Linked DNA regions of Homo sapiens: region 2 is linked to region 1. The links come from fine-mapping of genetic effects on gene expression. A gene starts in region 1. The other region holds a variant in brackets. All regions are shown on one strand. Distances are between the middles of the regions. Region 1 holds the start of SLC28A1 (solute carrier family 28 member 1). Region 2 overlaps SLC28A1 (solute carrier family 28 member 1).

Evidence for each region. PIP is the estimated chance that this variant, and not a neighbour inherited with it, causes the effect. A credible set is the group of variants that fine-mapping cannot tell apart.
Region 2: its variant is the best candidate, but not a certain one, in a credible set for the expression of SLC28A1 in nasal epithelium (TOPMed, PIP 0.86).

Annotation. Positions count from the first base shown.
Region 1 is chr15:84,882,282-84,887,653 of GRCh38, forward strand. It overlaps SLC28A1 (solute carrier family 28 member 1), which reads left to right and starts at 2,381. Exons shown (of 19, transcript NM_004213.5): 1 at 2,381-2,470; 2 at 4,391-4,506. RefSeq lists enhancers at 1,460-1,960, 1,961-2,461.
Region 2 is chr15:84,905,944-84,911,315 of GRCh38, forward strand. SLC28A1 (solute carrier family 28 member 1) reads left to right here. Exons shown (of 19, transcript NM_004213.5): 9 at 2,775-2,852. Among named protein-coding and RNA genes, the nearest start is that of SLC28A1, 24 kb to the left of the region's middle. The variant G/A (reference allele first, on the strand shown) is at 3,135.

The DNA.
Region 1 (5,372 bases):
CTGGATCAAACTGAAAAGGAACTATCTCAATTTCTCACTATATGAAAAGCTGATATGAGGCTGGGCACAGTGGCTCACACTTGTAATCCCAGCACTTTGGGAGACCGGGGCAGGAGGATCACTTGAGCCCAGGAGTTCTAGACCTGGGCAACATGGTAAGACCCTGTCTCTACAAAATAGGTAAATAAATAAATATTAGAACAACCAGGATGAAATTTTTTAAAAAAGAAAAAAAAATTAGCTGGCGTATGGTGCACATCTGTAGTCCCAACTACTCTGGAGGCTGAGGTGGGAGGATTGGTGGGAGGTCGAGGCTGTAGTGAGCTGAGATTGCGCCACTGCACGCCAGCCAGGGAGACAGAGTGAGACCCTGTCTCAAAAAAATAAATGAATAAATAAAATGCTAATATGAGCTGGAGAGGCAAGAGGAATAGAAGGTAAAAAGAACAACAAGGGAAATACACTTTTTAAGTACAATCAATTAAATATTAAATATTTGGGAACAGTGAGCTCTGAACTGCTTGGGTAAAATTCGCCCTGCCTGGTGGCCTTAAGCACTCCTGCAGGTGGGACCCGGCATCCTAATTCTACCAGGCCTCTTGTTGCTGCCGTAGATGAGCCCCAGACTCGGCCTTCCATTTTGTATTGGATGATGACCACATGTGCCCAGATGTTCTCAGTGAGTAGAGTGGGTCAAGGAGTAAACTATATCGGAAACCGTTGGATAATCATGCCAAGCAGGCTGGGGGCTTCCAGCCTTTGGGGTACTGGAATGCTTTCTTCCCCTGGGACCAGCTGAACTAGCTCTGTAGTTGCCGGGAGAGCAGTGTGCTCTAACACTTGGGCTAGTCCGTTCCCACAGGAAAACTAGAAGAGTCACAAGCAAAGAGTATAAAAGCCCAAGATATTTCTTTAGTCTTTGTATTTAGCTCTATGTCATCAATTTTTTTTTTTACAGGGTCTCACTCCTGTCGCCCAGGCTGGAGTGCAGTGGTGTGATTATGGTTCACTGCAGCCTTGACTTCCCAGGCTTAAATGATCCTCCCACCTCAGCCTCCTGAGTAGCTGGGATTACAGGTGCACGCCACCACACCTGTCTAATTTTTTCTATTTTTTGTAGAGACAGGGTCTCCCTGTGTTGCCCAGGCTGGTCTTGAAGTCCTGGGCTCAAGCGATCTACCTGCCTTGGCCTCCCAAAGTGCTAGGATTATTGCTACTTTCCAATATTTCTACTACAGACTACGGGAAGTCCATTTTTCAATGCCAAATGCAGAAGAAAAAGTTGTATGGATGCCCTTTCTGCCAATCATCCCAGGTTTAGGAGAGAAGAATGATGAGGTCATGTTCATGGAACTTGACGAGTGATAAGCCTCTTTATTTGTCCAGTGCTTGGATACACGAATCGATGCAATGAAAGAGACCTCGCCTGTGAAGAGCTAAGAAATGAGTGTGGGCAGAATCATGAGAAGAAAATAAAGAGATTGCTGAGCAACTCTTCTGACAGTTCTTGTGCTTTTTGAATGTTTCACTCACTACTTATAAAATAACCTATTATGTCAGAGCCTGGCGAGAAGGGATCCTCTCCAACTCTTTGACTAATAATTCCCTAAAACAGGAGGTGGCCTGCAGAAGAACTAAAACCAGAAAAGTTAGGTGGTTGCCTCTGAGGAATGGGATAGAGTTGGAGGGGTGGAGCAGCCCCTTTACTGTCAACCCTTCTGAGCTCTGCTGGATGGTGAGGGAAATTATCTATGTATATTTATGTGGTCCTCTCCCCACTCTGCCCTGGCCTGGCTCAGCTCTAGGTCTCACTCAGCGGGCGTCTGCGGGTGTGCCGGGCCTCAGAGGCTGTCTCCTTAGGAAACAGGCCACCAAGAAGCCCAAGGACATGCTGAGGTCCCACAGCTGGAGGGGCACAGCCGGGACACCTGAGGTCCTCCAGCTGTTGGTCTTTCCCTGGGGTCTCCACCCCAATCTATCCAGCCTCCCAACTCCCCAGCCTGTGGCTTTTTGCCACATTCCACCTGAAAAGACCGCTTGGCTTCTGGGGTCTGGGATCCCTGCTGGCCATGCCTCCTTGAGAGGAGGAGCAGGGGAGAAGCCCGGAGTCTCCTGGCCTGGAGGAGGGGAGCAGTGTGTCAGGACACCCCGGATGGGACCTGTGACAGCAATGACACCTGCCAGCCTGATGCCGCTTGACTCCCTGCCAGGTACTTCCTAAGCAGGAGCACGCTGACTCCTCATGTGCTCTATTACCCACCACCAGATGAGGCAGCAAGTTAACTTTGGCAGTCAGGAGTGGAGACCTTTGGGCTCCAAGCTCAAGGTCCACCCCAAGACACACAGCCCATTAAATCCTTGTTGTAGAGATTAGGGCCCACAACGATGTGAAGGTTATAAGCTGCACTGCATGGTTGCTGCTGGATGTGTTGTGTTCCTGGCTTCCCTCTGGATGCTGACAGAAACAAGGGTGAGAGAAAAGGACAGTAGGAGAGGAGGGAAGGCGGGACTGAAGAAAGGAGGGGAAGGGGGTAGCACAGGGCAAAGTGGAAAAGCAGGTAGCGTCCTTTTTTTCTTCACTAGGGCTTGGCGAAGACCCCTTCGAGGACAGCTCCAGGCCCATCCCTGTGGTGGCCACCCATGGAGACAGTAGTGCTGCTCAGAGGCATTTAGTTTTTGTTTCTTTTCTGTTTTTGAGGTAGAGTCTCGCTCTGTTGCCGAGGCTGGAGTGCAGTGGTGTGATCTCTGCTCACTGCAGCCTCCACCTCTCGGGTTCAAGCAATTCTCCTGCCTCAGCCTCCCGAGTAGCTGGGACTACAGGCACCTGCCACCATGCCTGGCTAATTTTTGTATTTTTAGTAGAGACGGGGTTTCACCATGTTGGCCAGGCTGGTCTCGAACTCCTGGCTTCAAGTGATCTGCCCACCTTGGCCTCCCAAAGTGCTGGGAGTGCAGGCATGAGCCACCGTGCCCCCCCTCTTTTTTTTTTTTAAAGGTAGAGTCTTGCTCTGTGGCTAGTTTTCAATCAAGGTAACACATGGGCTCTCAACAGTGTGCGGAACTCTGCTAGAAAAATCAAATTATGAGAACACTGTTACTGTGTGATCCCCTATTGGAAAATGAATAACATAAAATAACATACATTTAGGAAAAAAAAAGTGGAGAAAAGGCCAGGCGCGGTGGCTCATGCCTGTAATCCCAGCACTTTGGGAGGCCAAGGTGGGTGGACCACCTGAGGTTGGAAGTTCGAGACCAGCCTGACCAACATGGAGAAACCCCATCTCTACTAAAAATACAAAATTAGCCAGGTGTGGTGGCGCATGCCTGTAATCACAGCTACTTGGGAGGCTGAGGCAGGAGAATCGCTTGAACTTGGGAGGCGGAGGTTGCAGTGAACCGAGCTCGCACCACTGTACTCCAGCCTGGGCAACAAGAGTGAAACTCCGTCTCAAAAAAAAAAAAAAAAAGGAGGAAAATGCCACACAAACTCAATAGTGGTCATCCCTGAGGGCTCAGATTCCGGGGACTTTAACTTCCCTCATTCTGTATATTTCTCTAATGTTTAAATGTTTAATGATACACTTGTAATGCTTTGGTAATTCAAATGACAGATGAAGAAAAAATGTTTTCAAAAAGAGGGGGTGTCCATCCACCATCCTCTCCAAACTTCCAAAACAACCAGGAGGTGCCGGTACTAGCAAGTATTTATGCATCATAGAGGATTTTGTCCTGAGCGCGTACCATTAATTATTAAAGAGATGTTGTGAATCCCGTCAGATGAGTTTAATGTTTAGTGTGAGGACTGGAAAACTAAAGCATTCAGCCCTTCGCTTTGCACACCGTTGGCTTAGGTATTCATTTAACAAAGATGAAATGAAGGGGAAATGGTGTGATTTGGTTTTGTTTTCTTGACAGACCTGAAACACTTTTACTATTTCTCACAGCTACACTGCTTTCCTCATTTTCCAGCACAGGAAAATTGGTTGCTGTTATAATAAATCCCCATCTAGTGAGAAAGGGAGATAGAGAAAGATGCAAAATGAAAGATAAAATGCAAAAAGCTAACAGCCTGGCTGGGGAAAGGAGGCCATGGGAAGGAAGGAGGGGGAGGGAAATAATCACATAGGTGGCTTCCTGGAAGAAGCGGCCCTAATAGGCCTGGAAGAGGTCAGTTTGGGAACTGGGGAGAGGGCAGAGGAGGGCATCTCTGATGGAGAAGCAGCAGCCAGTGGGCAGGAGCTGCAGGGAGCCAGGTTGCAAGTGGGCCTGCTTCCTGTATCCCTGAGACCGTGTTGGGGTCCCCACCCTGGCTGTGGCCCTGGCCTCTGGGGAGGCGCTGGGCAGAACTGGGTGGCAGGCCCAACCTACTCCGACCCTGGACTCTGCCCAGGAATTTCTGCTGAAGTGACAAGGCAAGCCAGAGCCAAAGCAGGTTGGACCCAGCTTGTCCCCACAGAGACGTGTGCTTCCCTCTCTCTCTGAGAGCGACCTGTTAACCGCAAATACGTGAGTAGAAACAGGGCCCCGCTTCTGTGTGCGCTGCTGTGCGTCTGTGTGTGAGCCAGGGCATTCCCAGGCTCTGCCTGTGTGTGTGCACGCACATGCACGGGTCTCTGAGTATGTCAGCCTAACTGGGCTGGCATTTGGATGGAGTAGGGCACCACCCAAGGGGAGAAAAAGGAGCGGGAACAAGAGAAGGGAGAGAGGAGGTGTTAGTTACCACTCTTATTTACAGATGAGCTTAAGCCTACGAACTGAGCTTCAGCAAAAAATGAACTATATTGATTCTTGCAATGGAAAGTCCAGGAGTAGGATTGGTTTCAGGTATAGTTGGATCCAGGAACTGGAATGATGCCTTTAAGGATGTTGCACCTCCATCTTTCAGAGATGGAAAAGTAGAATACACTGAAGATCTCACTTAATGGTAATAGTTTTAACCAGTTGTAGGGAGTGATGAAAGCTAGGTCCTCTCTTCAGAAAAATGCCTGTATCAGATACATATGCAGGCTGTATATAATTCTTTACTTTCCTTCCCTATGAAGTGGGCAGAATTTGCTGTTTCTGCCTGGAACTCCCAGAGTTCACAAGGACTTGCCTCTTACAGGTTCAGATGTGGGTGCAGGCTGGGGTGGTGGCGCACGCCTGTAATCCCAACACTTTGGGAGGCTGAGGTGGGAGGACTGCTTGAGCCCAGGAGTTGGAGGCCAGCCTGTGCAACACAGGGAGACCCAGTCTCTAGAAAAAGGAAGAGGTACCTCCTCCATGTGCTGAGAAGTCAAGGTTGCAGTCCCAGTCACAAGGAGGGGTGAGCTCTGGGATGGCATAGGTGGCCCCCAGGCAGGGCTCTGGCTGTGCCAGGCATCTGCTCCCCC
Region 2 (5,372 bases), 24 kb after region 1:
CCAAATCTGCAAATGATTTACTTCTGTGTGTGTGTGTTTAAAAATAACGTTTATTGAAGTTATACATTTTTGTTCTTTTTTTTTTTTTTCTTTCAAGAAGGAGTCTCGCTTTGTCACCCAGGCTGGAGTGCAGTGGTGCAATCTTGGCTTGCTGCAACCTCCACCTCCCTGGTTCAAGCAATTCTCCTGCCTCAGCCTGCCCAGTAGCTGGGATTACAGGCTCCCACCACCATGCCTGGCTAATGTTTATATTTTTAGTACAGACAGGGTTTCACCATGTTGGCCAGGCTGGTCTCGAACTCCTGACCTCAGACGATTCGCTTGCCTCGGCCTCCCAAAGTGCTGGGATTACAGGTGTAAGCCACCACACCTGGGCCCATTTTGTTTTGTTTTGAGACAGTCTTGCTTTGACATCCAGGCTGAGTGCAGTGGTGTGGATATGGCTCACTGCAGCGTTGACATCCTGGGCTCAAGTGATCCTCCCACCTCAGCCTCCCCAGTATTGAGTAGCTGGGACTACAGGTGTAAGCCACCATGCCAAGCTAATTAAAACATGGTTTGTTTGTTTGTTTGTTTGTTTGTTTGTTTCTTTCTTTCTTTCTTTCTTTCTTTCTTTCTTTCTCTTTCTTTCTTCCTTCCTTCCTTCCTTCCTTCCTTCCTTCCTTCCTTCCTTCCTTCCTTCCCTCCTTCCTTTCTTCCTTCCTTCCTTTCTTTTTTTTTTTTAGGTACAGGGTCTCCCTATGTTGCCCAGGCTGGTCTCAAACTCCTGGGCTCAAGTGATCTCACCTTGAGCCACGGTGCCCAGCCAATTCTGTTTTTTATTTTGGTAAAATATACATAACATAAAATCAACCATTTTAACCCCTTTAAGTATCATTAAATTCATGCACACTTGTTTTGCAACTATCATGATTTACTTTTGTCAAAAGAAAATTAGAACAAATTTAGTTTAAAGATCTTAATTGGCTTTTATTTGTGATTTTAGAATTAGGCAACACCTCATTCTATAAAAATAGAGTGGGTGTTCCGATGAGTTGAGTGGAGGAGGTTGGCTTTATAGACAGAGAAAGGCTGAAGAAAGCAGAAACAGAAAATAAATAGCAGATTGGTTGTTTCAAGGTCACTTTCCTTATAAAGGTCACAGCTGAGGGGACTGCCTGTCATGCTGCATTTGGGGATTTGGCTATCTGTCTCATTCTCCTGATTTTTTGGAAGGTCAGAAGACAGCTTAGTTTTGACTTGTGATGTGGAACTTTATAGCATGAGTGATTCCATTGTGGTTTGGTCTGTTGGGAGTAGTGCAGGAGCTCAGTCTAAACTAATGGTCTCCTTTATTTAACACTTAGAATTTTTTTTAAATCTATTTATTTGTTTATTTATTTTGAAACCAGGTTATGAGACTAGCTAATTTTTCTATTTTTGGTAGAGATGGGGTTTTACCATGTTGCCAAGGCTGGTCTTGAAGTCCTGGGCTCAAGTAATCTGCCCGCCTTGGCCTCCCAAAGTGCTGGGATTATAGGCATAAGCCACCATGCTGGCCTTTTTTTAATTTTAGTTTAGTTTAGTTTAGTTTAGTTTTGAGACAGGATTTCACTTCCATCACTCAGGCTGGAGTGCAGTGGCGTGATCTTAGCTCATTGCAGCCTCGACCTCCTGGAATCAAGGGAACTTCCCACCTCAGCCTCCCAAGTAGCTGGGACTCTAGGCATGAGCCACTACACCTGGCTAATTTTTGTATTTTTACCACTTTAAAAAATATAAATCATCAAGGACATAGGTTAAATATGTTAATCTACTCACCTCCCTCTCACCAGCTTGCAGTTCCCTGTGCTCTGTGCAGGGTGGAGCATGAGAACCCTGCCGGTCCAGGAATGTGCACACCTGCTGGCCTCACTGACAGTAACTGTACAGGGTGTGGAGGAAAAGACAGAGAGTTTCTTTTCTGGTCATGTCCCCATTTTATAGATGGGAACACTGAGGCCTGAACAAGAGAAATGACTTGCTGCCCCTGCAGTCACATTGCAAGTTCAGGATATAACACAGGTCTCCTGTAGAAGCATGGCTGGGCTCAGACTCCAAGGCCACAAGCCCGGGATGGGGACAAGATGAGGGGAGACTTTGCCGTTGGTTGTCAGGGGCCTGAGCGGCACAAGAGGCACTGCCTTCTTCACATGTCTCATGGTTACTTCTTCTGTTATCTCTTCTTTATTGTCCTAATAACTCCCAGAGCATTTCTTTTTTTTTTTTTTTTTTTTTTTGAGACAGAGTCTCGCTCTGTTGCCCAGGCTGCAGTGCAGTGGCGCAATCTTGGCTCACTGCAACCTCTGCCTCCCGGGTTCAAGCGATTCTCCTGCCTCAGCCTCCCAAGTAGCTGGGATTACAGGTGCCCACCACCATGCTCAGGTAATTTTTGTATTTTTAGCAGATATGGGGTTTCACCATGTTTGCCAAGCTGGTTTCGAACTCCTGACCTCAGGTGATCCGCCTGCCTCAGCCTCCCAAAGTGCTGAGATTACAGGTGTGAGCCACTGCACCCAGCCTGCAGAGCATATCTTTAAAATTGACCAAAAAGGTGTCTCTTTGGCAAATATGCTTAGGAGTGAGTGCCCGTGACAGCAGCTTTAACGCACCTTGCCAGGTGGTGCCCCCCCCCGGATAAGGGCCTGGGGGGACTACGTCCCTGGGCCAACCCGCCTGTCTCTGGCCGCTGCTTCCTCCCTCCTCCCTTCCCAGCCTCACTGCCTGTTTTTGTTTGTTTTGCTTTTTTCTTTCAGATCTTCCTGAGCTACACGAAGGCTGGCTCCAGCTTCGTGTTTGGGGAGGCGCTGGTCAAGGATGTCTTTGCCTTTCAGGTCAGCTTGACTCAGGGTCCCAGAGGCCTTTAGCAGCCACCGCCCAGCGACTCCAGCTAGAGGGGAGTCTGGGCATGGTGGGGGCCCAGGTGGAGGGGAGGAGTCCTGTGGGCAGAGGTCGCCGTACTGGGAAGTTAGTGAACCTTAAGCCTGGGGCCCGGGAGGAGCCCAGCAATGTTCACCTCATGAGATGTTTTTGCTATATTTTGTAAAATTTGCAAAAGTAAGATATTTCTGTATGTTTTTTTTTTTAGAGATGAACCTCCAAATTATAGAATTACT[G/A]AGTAGCTGAGGACAAGAAGTGGGGGTAGGGGTCATGGGGACAGCTCCTGCTGAGACCTTAGTCCCTGATGTGCTGCAGAGACTCTGGGCCCAGAAAGAGCAGTTTCCAGGAAGGCTTAGGCTCAAATGATCCTCTCAGGCGCTCCTCCTTCAGGGCCCCTCACAGGCCACCTCTGCCAGGAAGCCAGCCCTTACTAGTCCCGCTGCAATAGCTCCCTCCTTTGTGACCTCCTCAACCTACGATCCCACTTTCCCTCCCTCCCAGCCTCCATCCATCCTTCCTTTCTTTCTTCCAACAAAAATCTATTGTACATTTACTGCACTGCAAAATATTATAGGGGAAATGGAGATAAAGGCACTGTTCTGTTTCAAAGACCTTATTGTCTAATGGTGGAGCCCCAACCCTAATTTAAAAACAGGTCAGCCTGTGCGGAGGATGAGGATGCTACTGGTGGGACTGCTTCACTGTTCTGGGTGGAGCTGTGGTTGTATTCTTTTTTCCCTAGTTCATTGTTTAAGCACCGAAATGGCTTGTTTAGTAAGAACTCTAGTGTAGCCCTCCTCTGCCTGTCTTACACTCCAACTGTCTAAGACCAGCTTGCTCTAGGCTTAAGCTCCCTTGCCAGGCAGAAGAGAGAGACCTGGGCCCCACTCACCCAGTAGTTGGCCCCAGTTTTCTGCCACTGATGCGTGGCACTGAGAGGGAAATCAGGGCTGCCCACTCTGGTACATCCGGGACCGCCATCACCATGGAGCTGCTATGCAAGACCCCATGTGCAGGTTCCAGAGGTTTCTTCTGTTTTTCATTATGCTGGCCACTGTTCCCAGAGTCTCCCCACCCTGCTGGGGGTCTTGGACCCAGGAGACTTTTGGCCCAAGCCATGGACTTAGCTATGGACTTCTGGGCTGGCGTTGAGCCAGATCATGAGTTCAGACCCTCCTGCCTACCCCTGACCCTGACCCTGACCTCTGGTGAGCTCCCCTTGGAGCCTTAGCATCTCTTGTGCCAGCAGACTCCTAGGGAATGTCCAGTCTAACATCGTCAGCCCTAGGAGGAAAGGGAGGGGCCCAGGTTCCTATCTTCTCTGAAGTCTTCTTGCCCCCTGGGCAAATTTGCCCATCATGTTTTCTGAGACCAGTTCTGCATAGGGAGAATATTGGGAGGGGGAGCCTATGTCAGCCCCGCAAAGGCCCCTAATACCATATTCCTTTAGGGTAACGAGCAGCTGCTCCCTTACCTTTGCATAACCAATGCGGGGGTACCCGAAGTTTCAGAAAAGACAAGTAAGGTCTGCTTCAGGGTGACCTCTGGCGTCCACCCAGGCAGGGAGGCTCCCGCAGCTTCTTACACTTTAAAACACACACACTCAGCTGGGCGCGGTGGCTCATGCCTGTAATCCTAGCACTTTGGGAGGCTGAGGCAGGCGGATCACTTGAGGTTGGGAGTTTGAGACCAGCCTGACCAACATGGAGAAACCCCATCTCTACTAAAAATACAAAATTAGCCAAGTGTGGTGGTGCATGCCTGTAATCCCAGCTACTTGGGAGGCTGAGGCAGGAGAATCGCTTGAACCCAGGAGGCAGAGGTTGCAGTGAGCTGAGATCATGCCATTGCACTCCAGCCTGGGCAACAAGAGCGAAACTGCATCTCAACAAAACAAAACAAAACAAAACAAAAACACACACACCCGACACTCTGCAGTTCAACCTCCCCAGGCAGCTGCGTTCAAGTGCAGTAACGGAGGGGCCTGAGGAGTGCGTATAAGGAGAGATTCTTCTAATAAGAGACCGTGAGGGAGACTCCTTGAGGAGGCAGCATTTGACATGGAGTTTAGGACAGAAGAGATTTGGACAGACTGAGCTAGGCAGGAAGAGGAAATGGCATGGGCAAAGCATGGAGGTGAGAATGTGCTGGCGTGTCCACAGTGCAGGGCAGAGTTCAGTGGATAGGCAGGTAAGCTGTTTCCCAAAGGGAAATTAAAGCCTCGTTAGCCAAAAAGCAGGGGAAGAGGTGCCCGGCGGGCCACGCAGCTGCTGTCCGCCAGAGCGCCTTCCCCCGCCCACCACTGGCCCGCGTCTCTCCTGCGTCATTGCTGGGCTTGCCTCTGTGTCTGCCCCCTGGCCACATTAGCTATGTCTCCTCCCAGCCTGCCTCCCTCTCTGGAAGGATGTGTACACACCTGCTGCTTGCATCTCTCCCTGAATCACCCTTTAGAATCATGGATTCCTTGACCATTG